Regions from separate parts of the Homo sapiens genome. Here region 2 is linked to region 1. Evidence: fine-mapped expression QTL. Tissue or cell type: whole blood. Region 1 holds a variant in brackets; the other region holds the start of a gene. All regions are shown on one strand. Distances are between the middles of the regions.

Region 1 (2,760 bases):
AGGCTCGGCGGCTGGCTAAGGAGGTATGGCTGGCTGACCACGTTTGAGGAAGGCTACGTGCTGAGCCTGGCCCTGGATTCTTCTGTCTCTATATGGAGTGAGAGACAAAACACCAGACCCTGAGGGCAGAGCCCTGGGCTAGACCTGGCTGGTCGGAACCAGCTCTGTGGGCTCAGGAGGTTCCTTTACCACGTGGGCTCTGGGCTTATGGTCTATAAAATGGTGAGGGTGGCTGTGGGAGAATATTTAGTTCAGCCCTGCTAATGTTTAAGTGCCTTCTGTGTATCAGGAATCAGGCTTTAGGGTATATCAGATATGTCAGTTCTAACATCCTGTTGTTTTCATCTGCGCCCATTTCCTCTTCCCTTTGGTTCATGTCTCTCTTCTGAATCTTTTCTTTGCTTACTCCTCACTCTTTTCCCCATCCCACACCCCTTTTTTCTGTAACAAATTACTTTTAACAAATAATATGTGTTCACCATTGGAAAAACATAATAAAACAAGAAGGAAACAAAAATCACCCAAAATCCTACCATGCACGTTTCATGCATTTTGTTTCCTGGGATTTGTTGTCATCCTGTATGGTGAGGTGACAGATACAGACAACTGCCTTGGAAGAAGAGTTTGTTCCCGAGAGGAGGGGACATCCATGCCATGCAGGGCCACACGGGGAAGCAGCCAGGGTCCTTCAGGAGGCAGAAGTGAAGGAGAAAGCAAAGCGCAGCGCCTTAGTGTGGTTTTCGTGGAAAGGAGTAGGTGAGGCAGGGTAGGCAAGTTTGGATAAGTTTAGGAGTGGATAGTTGGAATAACTTTGCTAGGCCCTGGGCTATAGGGGCGGCCTCTAATTGTCTAGTACCTGGCCCTGGGATGACTTAGGGCAGAGGAAATATCGGCTTGGTCGGGGAGAAGTAGGTAAAGGAGTTAGCTGGGGATCCAGGCTTTGGATTAGGTGGTTGGTTTGCATATGAAAGGCACACTTACAGGGGAGTTTACTGTTTCTAGGAATTAGCCCTGGAAGGGGCAGTTTGTCCTTGGCCAGCAAGGTCCCCCAAGACATGAAAGCATCATAAAGTATAGAAAATAAAAATATGATTAATACAGCACAGATAACCATGTGTGCTGTATTAATCATATTTCGTGTCCTTGTATATCCAGCCAAAATGGGATTACACAGTATGTGCTATTTTGTTCTTTTATTAGCATTATGACATGGTTCCATGTCAATAACTATACATCCAAGCCGTCATTTTAAAGGACTGATTAATATTTTATTTTTTTAAGAAATGGGGTCTTGCTCTGTTGCCCAGACTGGAGTGCAATGGTGTGATCATAGCTCACTGTAACCTCAAACTCCTAGGCTCAAGTAATCCTCCTCCCTCAGCCTCACAAGTAGATGGGCTCACAGGCAGAAGCCACTGCGCCCAGCTTATTTTCTTATATTAGATGTACTATTATTTATTTAACCGATGTCCTATAACTGAAAAGTTAGGTTTGTTTTGTTTTTTGCTTGGTTGGTATGGCT[A/G]TGATGACTGTCCCTGAGCACTTGTCTGATTACTTCCTTCAGCTTGCCTGCTGAACATGGAATTGATGGTCTCAAGGTCATCTTTTCTGTAAGACTCTGTCTATGTTGCTAACCACCTTACACTAAAATGGTTTGTGTTTTCCTTTGTTTTCCCTAGGGGAAAAGGCTAGCAGCCTTTGGGAGTGCTGGATTTCACACATCTACCCTCCACTGGCAAAATTTTTATTTCTTCTAGTCCATATCCTTATGAAATATTCTTTATAGAATGTTGCTTCCTTGGCATTTATCCTCAGCACAGTTTGGGAAATGAAGCCGACATTGCTAGTAGGCCTTCCTCCTTCTCTTATCCTCACGTCTATTATGGGTCTCCATGGGCAGCTGGGGTCCCTCAGGGTTCCCCATCCTGATATCCCTCTCCCCCCAGGCTCAGCAGGAGACACAGAAGGCAGCGCTGCGGTACGAGCGGGCCGTAAGCATGCACAACGCTGCTCGAGAAATGGTGTTTGTGGCTGAGCAGGGCGTCATGGCTGACAAGAACCGACTGGACCCCACGTGGCAGGAGATGCTGAACCATGCTACCTGCAAGGTGAGCCGGGCGGTGCCAGCAGGTCCCCTTCGCTGGTTCTCGTCCATCCTTTGCTATGTCTTTATCACCTCACCTCCTCATTCTTCCCTCTATTCTAGCCTTCTTTCAACTTTGATTCTGTTTCAGGCAAAACCTGTTCCTAGTTTTCTGTTCTGTTTGGCCTCCATTGCTTCCCATATTCCATTTCCCTCTGACTTAGAATGTCATCCCGGGCTCTTCTTGAACGTTTGCCTCCAGGTGTGGGACTAACCCAAACAATTCATCCCTGGTGGATACTGAGGATTCAACATTCACATTTTATTATGTTTAGCTGTGTGACTCCTCGCTTCTGTTTTCAGAGTCTGCTCCCTTTCCTGCTTTTGAGCTCTGACAGTACACCTCGAGTTTTGAAGTATAATTTATGTATCATTTCCAAGCTCCTGAAAGGGGACTGGGGAGCGGAAGGATCTCTGCCGTTGGCCCTGTCTGCCACCTTCAGCTTGCACAGGGCAGGTGTCAGCAACTCGAGGGGGTGTTTGTGGCTTGTGATTCTTCATCTGCCCCTCACACAGAACAGGCACCTCACTTCTACTCTAGAGCTCATGCAAATGAGAGCACACAGCACGGGGGGAGGGGTTAGGGGATGGTGTATAGTGTAGAGCTACACCTGAAC
Region 2 (2,760 bases), 59 kb after region 1:
GAATGAATGCATGAGTTTGGGGAAGGAAGAGAGAGCTGAGACACAGGTAGCGTAGCCATCCCCAAGGGGTATTTTCAAGAGCAGGGAACTGCAAGGTTTAAATGCAGGCTGGGGGATACTGGTATGATGTGTGCCCCTCAACCTCTGCATCCTCGGCTGAGTGGGCTCCTCCCACTCCCCACCGTGTGTGTATAAAGTGTCAGCACAGTGGAAAGATGAGGAGGGAAGATAACTCAAGTCCACACTCAAAACCAGGAGCACCCATGGCACAGTGTGAGGAGACTGGGAGAGTGTGAGGGTTAATATTGAGTGTCAACATGATTGGATTGAAAAGTATTGCAAAGTATTGTTCCTGGATGTGTCTGTGAGGGTGTTGCCAAAGGAGATTAACACTCGAGTCCGTGGACTGGCAGAGGCAGAGCCACCCTCAGTCTGGGTGGGCACCATCTGATCAGCTGCCAGCTCTGCTAGAATATAAAGCAGGCAGAAAAATGTCAAAAGGCTAGACTGGCCTAGCCTCCCAGCCTACATCTGGGTGGACATCATCTAATCAACTGCCAACACAGCTAGGATAAAAGCAGGCAGCAGAACGAGGAAGGACCAGACTGGCTGAGTCTCCCAGTCTCCATCTTTCTCCCATGCTGGATGCTTCCTTCCCTCAAACATCGGACTCCAAGTTCTTCGGCTTTGGGACTCTTGGGCCTACACCAGTGGTTTGCCAGGGGCTCTCAGGCCATCAGCCACAGACTGAAGGCTGCACTTTTGAGGTTTTGGGACTCAGACTGGCTTCCTTGGTCTTCAGGTCACAGACAGCCTATTGTGGGACTTCACCCTGTGATCATGTGAGTCAATACTCCTTAATGAACTCCCCTTCATACATATATAAACTCACCTTCTCTAGAGGACAGAGAACCTGACTAATACAGAGAGGCCTCAGTTGACCTGACCTGGGCTGTTACCAGTAGCTGCTCAGATCACTTGGCCAGAAAGACTCTCTCGATGGCTGCTGTGGGCTCTCACCCAGTGTGCAGAGCACACTGCAGGCAGGGGCTTCACGTCATGGTCCCTCTACCACACTATGAGGCTGCACAGTGAGTTTACACTCATCTTGGTTGGAGGACCCTCAAATCTAACAAGGTTAAGACACTTGCCTGTGGGAAACTGAGGCCCTTTCCTGAGTTGCACAGACCCCACATAGTCTGATTCGGAGCTCTGAGTTCTGACTGTGCCCCGGCTGTGTGCCCATGAGCATATCTCTTATGGCTCTCTTTCTGTGCTTTGGTTTTCTCATCTATAAATGGGCTAATCATGGTGACTGTTAGCAGGTTGTTAGGTGCTTGTCATTAGCAGGTCATGGAATTGACTTAGAAGGCCACAGACAATGCTGGAAGATACCTTACTCCTGTTTACATTTTGCCAAAGGCAGGCCTTGACCAAAGTTGTTCCCAATTCCTAGAGGTCTCAGAGAGGGCACGAGCTGCACAGATGCCAAAGGGTTGGGCAGCCTGTAGCTCTATTGGGCAGGGCACAGTCTGAGAGCCAGAAGCCTTAGCCTGTCTGACCCAGAGGTCCCACCCCAGAAGACAGCTGTGCTTTTTGATTTTACAGCCACCTGCTATATAAGGCCTCTCCCATACCAGCCCTAAGCCTCTACTGGGAACCACCTTCTGTAGGACAGTCACCAGGCCAGATCCAGAAGGTGAGAGGACTGCGAGGCCGGGGCCTGAGCCCTGGGAGAAGCTGAAACCGCAGGAAGGGCATTCAGGACCAGCTCAGGTCCTTCCCCGGCCAAGTCCAGGACATTCTTGCGGCTCTTGCTCCTTTGGCATTGCCCTAGGCAGTCGTATGCTCAGGAGAGGGAAGTCTGGAGTTCAGGGAGGATGTGGGCTGGGGATGTAGTTTTCTTGTTGTTTTGCCATCTGCTACTGTGTGTGTGGTTTGTGTGTAGTGTGTGCGTGTTCTGTGCATCATTCTGTGTGTGACATTCTTCATTCTGTGTGGTTTTGTGTCCTCACAGCCTCTCTAGGCTCCAGCTTTCTCTGTGGAAGATGACAGCAATTATAGCAGGACCCTGCCAGGCTGTCGAAAAGATTCCGCAATAAAACTTTGCCAGTGGGAAGTACCTAGTGAAACGGCCTAAGATGCCACTTCTTCTCATGTCCCAGGTGGGGGCCCTGCCTTGAGCCCCAGCTTCACTGGTCCCTCTTACCCACAGAGGTGTTGAGCACGGCCCTGGGTCCTGCTATGGGGTCACTCCCAGGCTCTGTTTCTCTGCTAGGTGNCCCTGGGTCAAGTCCTGACCTCTCTGGGCCTCCATCAATTCTCCCTGAAAATGAGGCTAGTTTCAGGTCTTCACCATAGGCTGAGGTGATCTGTGCACTTGATGGGCTGCTGGGGTCTCCTTCTCATCTCATCTCATCCTCTCCTTTCCCCTCCTCCATCACACTGTAAGACCTGAGAGGCCCTTTCCCAGAAGGCCATGGCCCTGAAACTCTTTTCCCACTGAGGAGAAAAGCAAGCAGCTGGGGTTCCAGGCCTGGAGGGGTGCACCCGGGCATGTAGGGGTGCACCGGGCCTGGAGGGGTGAGGGGCTGGCGCACGTCTGCTACAAGCTCCAGACCAGATGTGCTTTATTTTCCTCCTTGGATCTCTAAATGGTGGGGTCATTGGCATCATGTATGGGCCTCTTCTCCCAGACCGACTGGTTTCCCTTCCTTTTTACCAATCTCTAATAAGTCAACCAGGGTATCAGGGTAGGGT

The links. PIP is the estimated chance that this variant, and not a neighbour inherited with it, causes the effect. A credible set is the group of variants that fine-mapping cannot tell apart.
Region 2: LYPD8 starts here. The variant in region 1 is the best candidate, but not a certain one, in a credible set for the expression of LYPD8 in whole blood (TOPMed, PIP 0.52).

What each region holds. Positions count from the first base shown.
Region 1 is chr1:248,813,797-248,816,556 of GRCh38, reverse strand. It overlaps SH3BP5L (SH3 binding domain protein 5 like), which reads left to right. Exons shown (of 7, transcript NM_030645.3): 4 at 1-23; 5 at 1,947-2,108. Among named protein-coding and RNA genes, the nearest start is that of SH3BP5L, 11 kb to the left of the region's middle. The variant A/G (reference allele first, on the strand shown) is at 1,523.
Region 2 is chr1:248,754,644-248,757,403 of GRCh38, reverse strand. LYPD8 (LY6/PLAUR domain containing 8) reads left to right here and starts at 1,645. Exons shown (of 7, transcript NM_001085474.2): 1 at 1,645-1,699; 2 at 2,018-2,165.